Regions from separate parts of the Homo sapiens genome. Here regions 2 and 3 are each linked to region 1. Evidence: fine-mapped expression QTL. A gene starts in region 1. Each other region holds a variant in brackets. All regions are shown on one strand. Distances are between the middles of the regions. Region 1 holds the start of WBP2 (WW domain binding protein 2). Region 2 overlaps ACOX1 (acyl-CoA oxidase 1). Region 3 overlaps FBF1 (Fas binding factor 1).

Region 1 (5,326 bases):
GACGATCTTGGCTCACTGAAACCTTCGCCTCTCAGGTTCAAACAATTCTCATGTCTCAGCCTCCCTATTAGCTGGGATTACAGGAACCACGCCACCATGCACAACTAATTTTTGTATTTTTGCGTTTTTTTTTTTTTTTTTGGGATGGAGTTTTGCTCTTGTTGCCCAAGCTGGAGTGCAATGGCGTGATCTCGGCTCACTGCAACCTCCACCTCCCAGGTTCAAGGGATTCTCCTGCCGCAGCCTCCCGAGTAGTTGGGATTACAGGCGCGCGGATTACAGGCGCTTACAGGCGCACAACACCACACCCGGCTAGTTTTTGGTATTTTTTAGTAGAAACGGGGTTTCTCCATGTTAGCCAGCTGGTCTTGAACTCCTGACCTCAGGTAATCCGCCGACCTTGGCCTCCCAAAGTGCTGGGATTACAGGTGTGAGCCACCGCGCCCGGCCTAATTTTTGTATTTTTATAGAGATGGGATTTTGCCATGTAGTCCAGGCTGGTCTCAAACTCCTGGCCTCAAGTGATCCACCCACCTTGGCCTCCCAAAGTGCTGGGATTACAGGCACGGCACCAGGCCTGGATTTTGCTTTTCTTTTTCTTTTTTCTGAGATGGAGTCTTGCTCTGTCGCCTAGGCTGGAATGCAGTGGCATGATCTTGGCTCACTGTAACATCTGCCTCCCAGGTTCAAGCGATTCTCCTGCCTCAGCCTCCCGAGTAGCTGGGATTACAGGTGCCCGCCACCATGCCCGGCTAATTTTTGTATTTTTAGTAGAGATGGAGTTTCACCATGTTGGCCAGGCTGGTCTTGAACTCCTGACCTCAGGTGATCCACCTGCCTTGGCCTCCCAAAGTGCTGGAATTTGGCTCACGCCTTTGGCGTGAGCCACAAACCCCGGCCTGCTTTTCTTTTTTAAATTTACATATTATTTATTTATTTTTATTTTATTTTATTTTGAGATGGAGTCTCACTCTGTCACCCAGGCTGGAGTGCAGTGGCGCAATCTCAGATCACTGCAAGCTCTGCCTCCCGGGTTCACGCCATTCTCCTGCCTCAGCCTCCCAAGTAGCTGGGACTACAGCCGCCCGCCACCACGTCCGGCTAATTTTTTTTTTTTTTTTGTATTTTTAATAAGGGGTTTCACTCTGTTAGCCAGGATGGTCTCGATCTCCTGACCTCGTGATCCGCCCGCCTCGGCCTCCCAGAGTGCTGGGATTACAGGCGTGAGCCACGCGCCCGGCCTAAATTTATATTTTAAACGCACATAGGAAAAAAAAATTAAACAGTACCAAAGAGTACAATGCATACTGACATACCGAGTCACCAATCCACCCCAAATTCCTAGACCCATGTCTCAAAAATGCCACAGACATTTTCTGATGGATCTTTGCAAAAATTTTCTATCTAGATCCTATTTTTTATACAAATACAACTATATGTATACAGCATTCTGTGCTTAATAACCCTTGATGATCTTCCCATATCAGCACATAGTCTGACTTAATTCTTTTTAAAGACTGCAGAGATTGCAGGCGCCAAAATACATCTAACCATTGGGGCAGATTTCATTATGACTATCCTTAACCCACTGTACTTGTCCCGCAAGGTCCAACCTGGTATTGCACAGGACCTCACAGAACGCTGCTGTTTCCTGATCTTTTCTAGTGAGGCAGCTTTGTTTCTTCACATAGGAGACCTCCCTGGAAAGCGAAGTCAAGCAGGTGGATCTAGAGGTTGGCCACCACAGTCAGGAAAGCAGCTGTCTACTGAAAAGCAAACTCTAATTCCTTAACATTAACGAGTACCGGAACTACCACGTGGGAAGTGCAGCCCCCTCTCTCCGCCTCACGGATTCAGCTCGGAGGTGCAGGGGTTTGGTGGGGGGCGGTTAGGGAATGACAGCTGCCCCGTGGAGGACGCCCAGGGCTGGGTCACGAGCTGACAGGAGTCAGCCTTATTCTGTAAATCCTAGTTATCAGGATGCCGGTTTCGCGCCGTGCCCAGTCCCACTCAGCCTTCAGTCTTCCGGCCGGGACCCCGCTGGGCGCTAAGGGGGGAGCGGCGCCACCGCGAGGCCGGAGAGGGGGCTGCGAGGGGCGCCCGGCCGGCCTGCGAACGTGGTGGGAGCCAGGCGGGGCACACGGCCTCCCCTTCCCATGAGGGACTCTCCCCGCCCCCCGGGCTCAGCGCTGGGAGTGGTGAGATGGATGGCGGGGTGATCCGACGCCGCCAGCCCACCGCGTCCCCAAGAGCCGGGGCCTCCGGCTCAGCTAAACGCCCCAGAGTCACGCATGCGCCCCATAAACGTCTGCTGAGTGAACGAAAGCTCCCCATCCACAAGGGGACAGCTCGGCGCTCCCACGCCATGTCCAGGTCGCATTCGACCAGCAGGACTTCCCTTAACGCGCTGCCGGAGTCCCCAAGATCGCGCCCCTGCCAGGAGCGGAACTGTTTATTTCCGTCCGGCTGAAGAGGCGGGGTGGGGATGGCACAAGCCGATTGGTTACGCAAAATGTGGAACCAATTCAGGCCTATGATCCAGGAGACTACAAGTTCCAGAATGCATCCTTCCTCCAGCATAGGGACAGGCCGAGGCTGCGGGGGCGTTGCCTGCTGGGAATTGTAGTCTTCATCTTGTTTGTTGCGCAGGAGGAACTGGAAGGAGGGAGTAAACTATTACCACGTGACGTTCGGGTCAGGTGTTTGGGCCAGCCTCCGCACTCGAGCTTTGATTGGCTGACTCTAATAAGAAGACGCCACTAGGGGCGGGGCGAAGAGGGGCGCAAGCTCATTGCGTTTTGAGTCTCGGGACCCCTGTTGGAGAGACTATGGCGCTCAACAAGAATCACTCGGAGGGCGGCGGAGTGATCGTCAATAACACCGAGAGGTGAAAACACTGCGGAAGGATCCTGGAGGACCAAAGTTCGGGTGTCGAGGAAGTGGGCGGTGGGTGGTGGGTGGTGGGGAATAAGCCCCTGAAGAGGGAGCACTGATGGAGTGAGGTTGGTGGGGAACGGCTGGGGGCGGGGTTGGAGGAAGGTGGGTGGGCCGTGGGGGAGAGCCCGGGAGGTTGTGATCAGCTGGGAGGCGGGGGTGGGACGTCTGCATGGGGACCTGGTATGGGGCCCCCGGTGGGGCCTAGGGGTGATTCTTGAACCCCTTCCCAGACTTGTGATTTCAGTAGCTGGGAGGAGCCCCAAACAAAAATAATTGTCACTTATTGGATGTCTACAACGTTACTACGTGTCAGGCTCTGCGCCTTTTCTACCTTATTTAATAAATTCTGTGCAGTATAATCTACTACTGTCCACATTTCACAGGTAGGGAAAGTGGAGGGCAGAAAGGTTAAGTAACTTGCCCGAGATCGCAACTGTGTAAGTAACAGAGGTGGTAATTCCAGGAAAGGAGTCTTGACTCCAAAGTTAATAGGATTAACCACCAGCATACAGGCTTCCAGTATGTTCCAGAACTGTTCAGGTTCCCGGTAAAAAACTGAGGTCCCAGAGGTGAAATTAAACAGATGACGTTTGTCAGGTGTCTAACAGTTCCTGGCACTGTGTGGGTCCGTAGTCATTCCCTTGCCTCTCTCTTGAATGCCTGTTGGTTTGGGTCACCTCGGAAGGCAGAGCTCTCCTAATTCAAGGTTCTTTCCACTCCATCCTCCCCACCCCTTGCTCATTGCATCCTGTCTCTCCTCCAGTCTCTGCCAAGAGAAGCCTTAAATGGCCTCTGTCTCCTTTTGTTCCTTGGGTATTGAAAATCAGACCAGCCAGCCCTGGGTTGAACTATGCCGACCCTGAATTGCCTCTTGAAGGCAGAAGGAGCTTAGGAGGCACCTGAGTCCCCAAAGGAGACATCGTGGAGTCAGAGCCCTGTACCCAGCTAAGGCCAGCATCCAGCTGCCCTGTGACTTGGGAATGTTTGATGAGTCAGAGGAAAATGCCTAGAGTGACCCAGCATGCTCACTTTCCCTCTATCTTACCCGCTCAGAGTTTCATGGGCCCAGCCTGTTGCTGGTAATTCCTTCTTTTCTCTGAGCAGTACTTCTCTTCTCTTTTTTTTTTTTTTTTTTTTTTTTTTTTAGATGGAGGCTTGCTCTGTCGCCCAGGCTGGAGTGCAGTGGCACGATCTCAGCTCACTGCAACCTCCGCCTCCTGGGTTCAAGCGATTATCCTGCCTCAGCCTCCCCAGTAGTTGGCATTACAGGCACCCGCCACTACACCCAGCTAATTTTTTGTATTTTTAGTAGACATAGGGTTTCACCATGTTGGGCAGGCTGGTCTCGAACTCCTGACCTCGTGATCCACCCTCCTCGGCCTCCCAAAGTATTGGGATTACAGGAGTGAGCCACCGCGCCCAGCCATTTTCCTTTGCTTATACCAGTTGTTTCCCACTTACCCTTCCCCAGTCAGAGAAAGTTGTGATATATGGGGGGAGGCAGAAGACAAACAGAACCGTGTGAACCTTTTTATCATGTAATCAGAGACACCTCACACTGTTTTGTTGCATCTCTGTGTGTGAGTCAGTTCCCAGGCCTGGCCAGCTTTTCGTGCCATTTGGCAACATCTCTGGGGACTGTTTTTCTTTCTGTCTCTGTGGAACTTTCTGAGACAAGAATGTATCTATCCTGCTCGGCCTTCTACCTGGCTTAGGGCTCAGTCCTGCTAAGTAAGGTGTGCCTTCAGCCTGCTGTTTTAGAAAGTGCTTCAGCCTGCTGTCTGAAAAAGTTGTATCTATAACAATTGAAGTGTTAAGTCCAGTGTCCAAAATTTGATAATTAGGCTGGGCATGGTGGCTCACGCCTGTAATCCCAGCACTTTGGGAGGCTGAGGTGGGTGGATCACTTGAGGTCAGGAGTTTGAAACCCGCCTGACCAACATGGTAAAACCTCGTCTCTACTAAACACAAAAAATTAGCCAGGCGTGGTGGCGCATGCCTGTAATCCCAGCTACTTGGAAGGCTGAGACAGGAGAATCGCTTGAACGCAGGAGGTGGAGGTTGCAGTGAGCTGAGATCACGCTATGTTGCACTGCAGCCTGGGCAACAAGAGTGAAACTCCGTCTCAAAAAAATAAAAAATTATAATTAAAATAGTGAACGTTACTCTTCAAGTCGTGAACTCCTTTGACAATGATGAAAGCTGTGGACTCTCCTCCCAGAAAAATGCACATATGACATACGTGATCATCTCAAGGGCTTCATGGACTTTCCTGCAAACCCCGCTTAAGAACCCAGGTTTAAAAGAACCCCGAAGGACGTCCTATTGTGATCTGTACAGTCATCTCTTAGACATGTTTATATTTTAGGCTTGAAAAACAAACCAGCAA
Region 2 (5,326 bases), 100 kb before region 1:
CAAATACAGAAATGGAACATGCATGACACTTAGATTTTCAACTTAATAGGAAACCATCAGATAGTGTGGGAAATTCAGTGTCTTGGTTATCAACCAGTTGTAGCTCATCTACAGGTGTTTTTTGTTAGATTTTGTTTTTCTCTGAGATATGAGAGTTTAAAGGACTGTGCAGGAAATTTTTCCTTGTGCCTATTTTTTTCCCCATCTCTTAACTGAAGTCAATGTAATTTATCTCCTTAGGAACTCACCTTCGAGGCTTGGAAACCACAGCCACGTATGACCCTGAAACCCAGGAGTTCATTCTCAACAGTCCTACTGTGACCTCCATTAAATGGTGGCCTGGTGGGCGTAAGTGAATTTTTCAGCATTTATTGGATGTTTTGAAGGTTTGTCATGAGATTTTGCTTAGAATGTAGAGCTTTTATGATAATGTCGGCCAGACTTGGTGGTGAAATCCTAACACTTTGGGAGGCTGAGGTGGGCAGATCACTTGAGGTCAGGAATTCAAGACCAGCCTGGTTAATATGCTGAAACCCCATCTCTACTAAAAATACAAAAATTAGCCGGGTGTGGTGGCGCACACCTGTAGTCCCAGCTACTTGGGAGGCTGAGGCAGGAGAATCACTTGAACCCGGGAAGGTTGCAATGAGCCAAGATTGCACCATTGCACTCCAGCCTGGGCATCACAGCAAGACTTTGTCTCAAAAACAACCCAACAAACAAATATATGTGTGTGTGGTGTGTGTACATAGAGGGGTGTGTGTGTGTGTATATAGACAGAGAGAGGTGTGTGTGTGTATATATATATATATATATATATATATATATATATATAGAGAGAGAGAGAGAGAGAGAGAGAGAGAGAGAGAGAGAGAGAGAGAGAGAGAGAGAGAGAGGAAAGCCAGGCATAGCGGCACATACCTATAGACCTATAGTCCTGGCTACTCAGGAGGCTGAGGTGGGAGGACCACTTGAGCCCAAGAGTTCAAGCCTGCAGTGAGCTACTATCTGTGATCATGCCACTGCACTCCAGCCTGGGTGACAGAGTGAAACCCTGTCTCTTAAAAAAAAAAAAGAAAAAAATTTAAATAGTTTTAACACAAACTTTTTTTTTTTTTTGAGATGGAGTCTCACTGTGTCACCCAGGTTGGAGTACAGTGGTGTGATCTCCGCTCACTGCAACCTCCACCTTCTGGGTTCAAGCGATTCTCCTGCCTCAGCCTCCTGAGTAGCTGGGACTACAGGAGCGTGCCACCACACCCAACTAATTTTTGTATTTTTAGTAGAGATGGGATTTCATCATGTTGGCCAGGCTGGTCTCAAACTCCTGACCTCTGGTCTGCCCGCCTCGGCCTCCCAAAGTGCTGGAATTACAGGCGCGAGCCACCGTGCCCGGCTGACCCGAAACTTTTATATCTTCTTATTCCATTCTGAGTTATTATCTTGGAATATATATTTCCAATACAGTTAGTGGTTGAAGGATTTTGTTATTCACATTATATATTTTATTTATTTATAATTTATATGTAAGAAGCCACATGTAGCTAGTGATTACTGTTTTGGACAGCACTGCCTTAAGGGATAACAAGGAAGTAGTTTAAATTAATATTCTTATTTTTATCCTAAAATTTTCTCTACGTAAATGTATGAGAAATAAGTAGAAAAGAAAGTAATAACTATTAGCTTAAGGGAATTTCTTTCTGAAAGCTAGGTGTGATGCTGTCAGCAGAAAGGCTTTCTGGACACATACTATTGGTTTAGTCTAGTGTTAGATTTAACATATTCTTTCTTCTTTTTTCTACCCTTTAAAAATGTATGAACGTTTGCCCACCCCTCCCTTGTTCTCTTTGATATTACAGTTGGAAAGACTTCAAATCATGCAATAGTTCTTGCCCAGCTCATCACTAAGGGGAAATGCTATGGATTACATGCCTTTATCGTACCTATTCGTGAAATCGGGACCCATAAGCCTTTGCCAGGTAAGAACTGTTCATCTGATGTTGAGATGAAAATGAAACTGAGCACTTTCTTCTGCAAAAGGTAGAATGCCCAACTGAAGAGGCGGAGCAAAAGCCAGAAATTCCAGAGCATAAACATCTCGTGACTGTCCTTTCATCTGTGGTAGGAATTACCGTTGGTGACATCGGCCCCAAATTTGGTTATGATGAGATAGACAATGGCTACCTCAAAATGGACAACCATCGTATTCCCAGAGAAAACATGCTGATGAAGTATGCCCAGGTATGTTTTGATAGAAAATAAAGCAGAGGCATCAAACAGTGGAGTTGAGTGGCTGTTACTCACAATAGGGTTAGAATGGTCTGTTCTTTTAGAAGGTAATAACAGCAGGGCACACTGGCATATTCCTGTTATCCCAGCACTTTGGGAGGCTGAGTGCGTGGATGACTTGAGCCCAGGAGCTCAAGATCAGTCTGGGCAACATAGTGAGAACCCATCTCTACAAAAAGTAAAAAAATCTAGCTGGGTATGGTGGCACACGTGTGTAGTCCCAGCTACTTGGGAGACTGGGGTGGGAGGATCACTTGAGCCTGGGAGGCCGAGGCTACAGTGAGCTGTGATTATGCCACCGTACTCCAGCCTAGATGACAGTGAGACCTTGTCTCAAAAAAAAAAAGGAGGCTGGGCGCAGTGGCTCACACCTGTAATTCCAGCACTTTTGGGAGGCTGAGGCGGGAAGATCATGAGGTCAAGAGATGGAGACCATCCTGGCCAACATGGTGAAACCCCATCTCTACTAAAAATACCAAAAAATTAGCTGGGCGTGGTGGTGCGCACCTGTAGTCCCAGCTACTCAGGAGGCTGAGGCAGGAGAATAGCTTGAACCCGGGAGGCGGAGGTTGCAGTGAGCAGAGATCATGACACTGCACTCCAGCTTGGCAACAGAGTGAGACTCCGTCTCATAAAAGGAGGGAATAAGGCTGGGCGCGGTGGCTCATGCCTGTAGTCCCAGCACTTTGGGAGGCCAAGGAGGATGGATCATAAGGTCAGGAATTCAAGACCAGCCTGACCAATATGGTGAAAACCTGTCTCTACTAAAAATACAAAGATTAGCC[G/A]GGTGTGATGGCACACGCCTGTAATCTCAGCTACTCAGGAGGCTGAGGCAGGAGAATCGCTTGAACCCAGGAGGCAGAGGTTGCAGTAAGTCGAGATCACACCACTGCACTCCAGCCTAGGCAATACAGCGAGACTCTGTCTCAAAAAAAAAAAAAAAAAAAAAGGAGCTAATAATGCATTTTTCCTTCTGATGCCCCTTTTTTTTTTTTTTGAGAGAGAGAGTCTCTGTCACCCATGCTGGAGTGCAGTGGCGTGATCTTGGCTCACTGCAACCTCCGCCTCCTGGGTTCAAGCGATTCTCCTGCCTCAGCCTCCCAAGTAGCTGGGATTACAGGCATGCGCCACCACACCCAGCTAATTGTTTTGTATTTTTAGTAGAGGTGGGGTTTCACCCTGTTGGCCAGGCTGGTCTCAAACTCCTGACCTCAGGGGACCCTCTTGCCTCGGCCTCCCAAAGTGCTAGGATTACAGGCATGAGCCACCGCACCCAGCATTTTTTGGTTTTTTTTTTTTTTTGAGACAGAGTCTTGCTCTGTCACCCAGGCTGGAGTGCAGTGGCGCAATCTCAGCTCACTGAAACCTCCGCCTCCCAGGTTCAAGCGATTCTCCTGTCTCAGCTCCTGAGTAGCTGGGATTACAGGCACGTGCCACCACACGCAGCTAATTTTTGTATTTTTAGTAGAGATGGGGTTTCACCATGTTGGTCAGGCTGGTCTCGAATTCCTGACCTCTTGATCTGTCTGCCTTGGCCTCCCAAAGTGCTGGGATTACAGGCGTGAGCCATCACGCCCACTCTGATGCTTCTTTTACTGCGACAGTGAAATCAGAAACAGTTGTCAGGGTTGAAGGACATATTTTGATTTGCTAAACCAATGATTCTCAAACTTTTGCATGCGTTAGAATCACCTGGAAGGCCAGTTAAAGCCCAGGTTGCTAGGCCCTACCCTGGAGTTTCTGATTCAGTTGGTCAGGGTGGGGACTAAGATGTAGTATTTCATGCAAGTTGCCAGGTGATGCTGATGCTGCTATTCCAGGGACCACACTTTGAGAACCACTGAACTGCCTCTTGGGCTTAAAAGAAGGAAGTATCAGTTCCACGTTCTTCTTCCAGGTGAAGCCTGATGGCACATACGTGAAACCGCTGAGTAACAAGCTGACTTACGGGACCATGGTGTTTGTCAGGTCCTTCCTTGTGGGAGAAGCTGCTCGGGCTCTGTCTAAGGCGTGCACCATTGCCATCCGATACAGCGCTGTGAGGCACCAGTCTGAAATCAAGCCAGGGTAAGGATAGGGTCCTAGATGGGCTCAGTACCAAAGGCCTAGTTTTTACCCCATTCAGATCCCAGAATTCCCAAATGTCAATACAGAAGATGCATTAGCACTGCAAAATTGGCTAGGGTGATAACTGGGCCTGTAATTTCATATCTAGGCTTCCTTTTCTTAAGAGGAAAGACAGAAATAACCACCCTTGCTATAATCAGTGACTGCCAAAAAAGAAAAAAAGAGAATACCCACCTTATTATTTTTAACTTTTTAAGAAAAATAGTAATAATATTACTTGAACTTTATAAGTGAAATGTTCAACACACTAAAGGCAGTTTGAAAGTTCTGATTACTACTAGCAACTGTAAATTGTGCATGGTGAAAGTGACATTAAATTTGTTTCCCTTTTGCATTCATAGCCACAGTTTATTCCTACAACTGCCTTTCACTGATACTCCCTGATACTCTTTTTACTCCTAAGGAATAAAGAAACTGGCCAGGTGTGGTAGCTGACACCTGTAATCCCAGCACTTTGGGAGGCTAAGGCAAGAAGATTACTTGAGCCTAGGAGTTTGAGGCCAACTTGAGCAACATAGTGAGACCCTGTCTCTATTTTCTTTTCTTTTTTTTTTTTTTTTGAGATGGATTCTCACTCTGTTGCCCAGACTGGAGTGCAGTGGCGCGATCTCAGCTTGCTGCAGTCTCTGCCACCCTGGGTTCAAGTGATTCTCCTGTCTCAGCCTCCTGAGTAGCTGGGATTACAGGTGCACGCCACCATGCCCAGCTAATTTTTGTATTTTTAGTAGAGACGGAATTTCGCCATGTTGGCCAGGCTGGTCTATTTTCAAAAAAATTAAAAGTTAATTAAATTTTAAGGCCAGGCGCAGTGGCTCACGCCTGTAATCTCAGCACTTTGGGAGGCCAAAGCGGGTGGATCACTTGAAGTCAGGAGTTCAAGACCAGCCTGGCCAACATGGAGAAACCCCAC
Region 3 (5,326 bases), 57 kb before region 1:
TGTTAAGCATCTGCCTGGGGTCAGGCACAGTGAAGCTCTCGCCTTGTGCTGTGTGTGGCTGGGCCCACAGCACAGCATTAAGCCACCCTGTGCTTAGCCTGCTTGGCTGATGGGTGAGGACAGGCAGAGTGCGTAGCTGGCGATTCAGCGGCAGGGATGTTGCTGCTCTTTGGCCCTCCCAAGCTGCTAGCCTTGGTGCTGTTGGAGACCTGAGGGTTGGGAGGGCACCTGCTGGGTCCTTCTCTTGGGCAGAATCGTGCGGGCTGGGCCCTGGCAGTGCCTCCCAGGCACCCCTCATTTTGTGCCTCTTTGGGAAGGACGTGTCAGTGGCATAGTGTGGGAGACACTGGTGGGTTCATGCAGCTTCTCAGGGAGTGGCCAGGCGTGATCCTCAGGGCGGGAACCACGCTCTCAGTCCTGCCCTGGGCCCTACAGGAACGCTGGCGGGTGACTGCCGAGCAGTCCAAGGCGGAGTCCATGCAGCGCGCCCTAGAGGAGCAAAGGAAGGTCACGGCCCAGCAGATGGCCATGGAAAGGGCGGAGCTGGAACGGGCCAAGGTGAGTCAAGCCACCGCACTCAGCCCCTGCCCCTGCCATTATGCCCAGGGACACTCACCCCGTGCCTTCACCCCCACATCCCAGAGCGCCTTGCTGGAGGAGCAGAAGTCTGTCATGCTCAAGTGCGGGGAGGAGCGGCGGCGCCTGGCTGCCGAGTGGGCGGAGTTCTCCGCGCAGCAAAAGCTGAGTAAGGAGCGGGCCGAGCGCGAGGCCGAGCGGGCATTGCAGGTGGACACCCAGCGGGAGGGCACCCTCATCAGCCTGGCCAAGGTAGGGCCCAGAGCCTCCGGACAGTGGAGGGCCCAGGGTTGCCTGCGCCCCTCCATCTGGACACATCCGCTTCCAGTCTTAGGAAAGGAGAGTGTAGCACTAATGTCACAAGAGCATAGGGATTAAAACAGTAATCGCATCATCATGCTAACATCTTCCTCGTATTGTCCCAGGTGCATTATACACATTTTATTTGATCCTCATGTTCCCATGACTTTGGTCATTTAGAAATGAGGAAACCGAACTTCAGAGTTGAGCCTGCCACAGTCACGTGGCTTGTGAGGGCAGCACTCCGGCTTGGCCCCAGGCTTCTCTGGCTCTCCCTGGAAGCCCCTGGCTCCACCACCTCCTCCCAGGGGCAGGGTGGGCAGAGGGGACCCTAGAGTCCTGCACAGAGTGCAGCGCAATTCCTGGGAGGAGAATGCAGCAGGGCCTCCGCTGTCTCCAGGAGCAGGCTGAGCTGAAGATCAGGGCCAGCGAGCTCCGGGCCGAGGAGAAGCAGCTGGCAGCGGAGAGAGCAGCCCTGGAGCAGGAGCGGCAGGAGCTGCGGCTGGAGAAGGAGAGGATCAACGCCACCGCCCTGCGTGTCAAGCTCCGCGCCGAGGAGGTGGAGAGCATGAGCAAGGTGCTGCTCGGGCACATGGGCGTGGGCGCATCTGAGCCCAGGCAGCCCTGACCCAGGCGGCCTCCCTGCAGGTGGCCTCCGAGAAGTACGAGGAGGGGGAGCGGGCATTGCGCGAGGCCCAGCAGGTGCAGGCAGAGCAGCAGGCCCGGTTGCAGGCGGTGCAGCAACAGCAGGAGCGGCTGCGGAAGCAGGAGCAGCACATGCACCAGGCAAGGCTCCCTGAGTGTATGGCGCCCCTGCCCCCGGCACCCCCAGCCTCCCACCTCACAGCTGAGTCCTTCTTTCTGGGGGAACGGGGACAGGAGCATCTGAGTCTGGCCCAGCAGAGGCTGCAACTGGACCGCGCACGACAGGACCTGCCCTCTAGCCTCGTGGGTCTGTTCCCCAGGGCCCAGGGCCCTGCAGCCTCCAGCCAGAGTGGTGAGTGGCTCCAGAAGGAAGGGCCGGCGGCTCAGGACTGGGCAGGGGCAGTGCTAGGAGTGGGCAGGCCCTCCTCCAGCCGCTCCAGTTAAGGCGGCCAGCTGGGTTTTATAGTCGCCTTATTTCTTTTTTACACAAATAATGTGTGTTAATTTTAGATAAATCAGAAATAGAGGAACACTATTATGAAAAATGTCACCTTTTTGTAACTCTGGACTCAGGAAAAAAAAAGGAAATAAAAAAAGTCATTGTCAGGCTGGGCGTGGTGGCTCACGCCTATAATCTCAGCACTTTCGGCAGCCGAGGCAGGCGGATCATCTGAGGTCAGGAGTTCAAGACCAGCCTGGCCAACATAATGAAACCCCGTCTCTGCTAAAAATACAAAATTAGCCGGGTGTGGTGGCAGGTGCCCGTAATCCCAGCTACTCAGGAGGCTGAGGCAGGAGAGTCACTCGAACCCGAGAAGTGGAGGTTGCAGTAAGCCGAGATTGTGCCACTGCACTCCAGCCTAGGGGACAGAGCAAGACTCCGTTTAAAAAAAAAAAAAAAAAAAAAAAGTCACCCTCAACGCCACTCCTGAGTCTTGAGAGAACCACTTTTCACTTTTAACATTTTGGTGCATAATGTTCCACTCTGGTACTTTTTTTTTCTTTTCTTTTTTGAGATGGAGTTTCACTCTTGTCACCCAGGCTGGAGTGCAGTGGCATGATCTCGGCTTAGTGCAACCTCCACCTCCTGAGTTCACGCGATTCTCTTACCTCAGCCTCCCAAGTAGCTGCGATTACAGGCATGTGCTACCATGCCTGGCTAATTCTGTATTTTTAGCAGAGATAGGGTTTTGCCAT[G/A]TTGGCCGGGCTGGTCTTGAACTCCTGACCTCAGGTGATCCACCCGCCTTGGCCTCCCAAAGTGCTGGGATTACAGGCATGAGCCAACGCGCCCAGCCTGGTACATGTTTTTAAAAACAAAATTAGGATTGTATGTGTTTTTCAATAACTTTACTTTTTTTACTCAGTAATGTACACGTGGAACAGGTTTTCAGATCAGTCATTAAACATTTAGTCAATTCCCAATCAGCACAGTTTTCCACTGTGAGGCTGCTCTGTGCTGAGTGATTTGTTGTCTTAAAGAGAAAGACTACCCAGTGGACATCTTCCTACATATGTGTTTGTACCTTTGCCTGATTATTTCACTGGAATAAATTCCTATAAATGGTCTTTCCAGGTAGGAGCAGGTATGCATTTGCCAGAGGCTTCTGAGAGTTAGTGCCATTGCACCCTGAGTATATGGCCAGGGTCCACCCACTGGCGGGGGGAGCAGCTCTGCAGGAACAAGCTGTGACCGCCCGGTATTTCCACCAACACTTTGGTCCCTGACTTCCTCCTTGGCCTTTTCAGCCCTCATGCCTCCTGCTCCCACCACCCGTTGGTGCAGCCAGCCGCCAACTGGCCTGGACCCCAGCCCCTTGCACCTCCATGCCAGGCTGGCACTGCTGAGGCACATGGCAGAGCAGGTGAGTCTCTCCTGGCCTTGGGGATCCTTGTGTTCACGAGTCCTTCCAGCTCAGGGCAGAGGCAGGGAGGAGCACATGGTAGCCCTGGGGAGGGGTGACCCCAGCTCCTGGGGAGTAAAACTGCAGTTTGCTTAGTGAGCCAATGCTCAGACTTCCACACTAGGCCAGGTTCTGTGCAAAGCAATTTGCATATGTCATCTCAGTTAAACCTCATGATAACCTATAGCAATAATGATAACAGGCTGGGCACAGTGGCTCACACCTGTAATCCCAACACTTTGGGAGGTTGAAGCAGGAGGATCACTTGAGCCCAGGAGTTTGAGACCAGCCTGGGCAATATGTTGAGACACCGTCTCTACAAAATGAAAAACTAAAAAAAGAGGACCAGGTGCGTGGCTCACACCTGTAATCCCAGCACTTTGGGAGGCTATGGTGGGAGGATTACTTGAGCCCAGGAGTTCGTGGCCAGCTTGGGCAACATAGTGAGACCTCGTCTCCACAAAAAAATAGCTGAGCGTGGTGGCATACACCTGTACTCCCAGCTACTCCGGAGGCTGAGGTAAGAGGATCACTTAAGCCCGGGAGGTCGAGGCTGCAGTGAGCCACAACGGTGCCACTGCACTCCAGGCAACAGAGCGAGACTCTGTCTCAAAAAAATAAATATTAAAAATTTAAAAATTAGCTGGGCATGGTGGGGCATATCTATAGTCCCAGCTACTTGGGAGGCTGAGGTGGGAGGATTGCTTGAGCCCAGCTGGTCGAGGCTACAGGTGTGTTCACACCACTGCACTTCAGCTTGGGTGACAGAGCAAGGCACTTGTCTCAAACTAAACAAAACAAAACTATAATGATAACAGTTGTCATTATGGAGCATTTCCTGTGTGCCAACCTCAATGCCGAAGGCTTTGTTTATATTTTACTTATTTATTTATATTTAGAAATGGGGTCTCACGATGTTGCCTCGGCTGGTCTCAAAGTCCTGGGCTCAAGTGATCCTACCCCCTTGGCCTGCGGATTAGCTAGGATTACAGGCATGAGCCACTGTGCCTGGCCTGCTTTGTGTATTTTTTAAGCTTTTACCCTCACACAGCCCTGCAAGGAAGGGCTACAAGGAATGTTTACAGACAAGGAAACTGAGGCTTAGAGACATGAAGTCATGTGCTCGTAAGTTCCACAGCAAACAAGTAACCTTGCCAGGATTGAGACTGTGGTCTGTCTCACTCCATACCTGGGCTCTTTCATGGCCCCTGCTGACTCCCAGAGCCAGGCAGAGTCAGGGACGATGTGGGGAGGGGCCTCAGTGACGGCTGGCTCAGCTAGCATCCAGGGCTCCACCTCCCTCTCAGCTCAGGGAAGGTGACCGCCCATCCAAACCTGCCTTGCAGGACCGTGACTTCTTGGAGAATGAACAGTTCTTCCTGGAGACCCTGAAGAAAGGGTCCTACAATTTGACATCTCATTCAGCCTGAGTGGGACCCCAGCCGATTCCCCAACAGAGGGTTCGGACCCCAGAACTGTCCTGTTCCTCCGGCTGCCTCCATGGAGGCAGTGCCTGGGGAGGATTCTGAGATGCTTGAGGCCTGATGACAGCTCTTCCGTGGACAGGGTGCAAGTGCATCCTTTCCAAATGTGCCAGCCCGGGGCAGCCCCTGCCTCTGGGGCTCTGTGGTGTAGGCTATCTTACCATGGCTTTGGCTGCCCTGCCCCAAAGCCATTGGCTTGGATCTGAGGGTCTGAGTTGGCAGCAAGGACCCCCAGCTCTCACTGGGCTCTGTGGGCTCCCCCTGGGCTCTGTGGGCTCCCCCTGCTCCACAGGTAGACTGTTGTGGGCTCTTTTTGCCTGGGCCTCTTCTGAGGCAGGAGCTTTCTTGAGGGATGCCACAAACAGCCTTCCCTACTCCCTGCCAGAGCAGTTCCCTCCCTGATGAGCTGGAGAAGGGCCC

The links. PIP is the estimated chance that this variant, and not a neighbour inherited with it, causes the effect.
Region 2: its variant is the best candidate, but not a certain one, in a credible set for the expression of WBP2 in whole blood (TOPMed, PIP 0.78).
Region 3: its variant is the best candidate, but not a certain one, in a credible set for the expression of WBP2 in whole blood (TOPMed, PIP 0.86).

What each region holds. Positions count from the first base shown.
Region 1 is chr17:75,852,800-75,858,125 of GRCh38, reverse strand. WBP2 (WW domain binding protein 2) reads left to right here and starts at 2,791. Exons shown (of 8, transcript NM_012478.4): 1 at 2,791-2,887. The coding sequence starts at 2,829. RefSeq lists enhancers at 1,172-1,967, 2,576-2,705 and a silencer at 2,036-2,205.
Region 2 is chr17:75,952,481-75,957,806 of GRCh38, reverse strand. It overlaps ACOX1 (acyl-CoA oxidase 1), which reads left to right. Exons shown (of 14, transcript NM_004035.7): 4 at 241-348; 5 at 1,860-1,979; 6 at 2,126-2,241; 7 at 4,187-4,356. Among named protein-coding and RNA genes, the nearest start is that of FBF1, 14 kb to the right of the region's middle. The variant G/A (reference allele first, on the strand shown) is at 3,075.
Region 3 is chr17:75,910,249-75,915,574 of GRCh38, reverse strand. It overlaps FBF1 (Fas binding factor 1), which reads left to right. Exons shown (of 30, transcript NM_001319193.2): 24 at 436-558; 25 at 643-828; 26 at 1,277-1,453; 27 at 1,525-1,662; 28 at 1,756-1,873; 29 at 3,268-3,383; 30 at 4,769-5,326. The coding sequence ends at 4,852. Among named protein-coding and RNA genes, the nearest start is that of MRPL38, 8.0 kb to the right of the region's middle. RefSeq lists an enhancer at 353-647 and a silencer at 4,552-4,712. The variant G/A (reference allele first, on the strand shown) is at 2,719.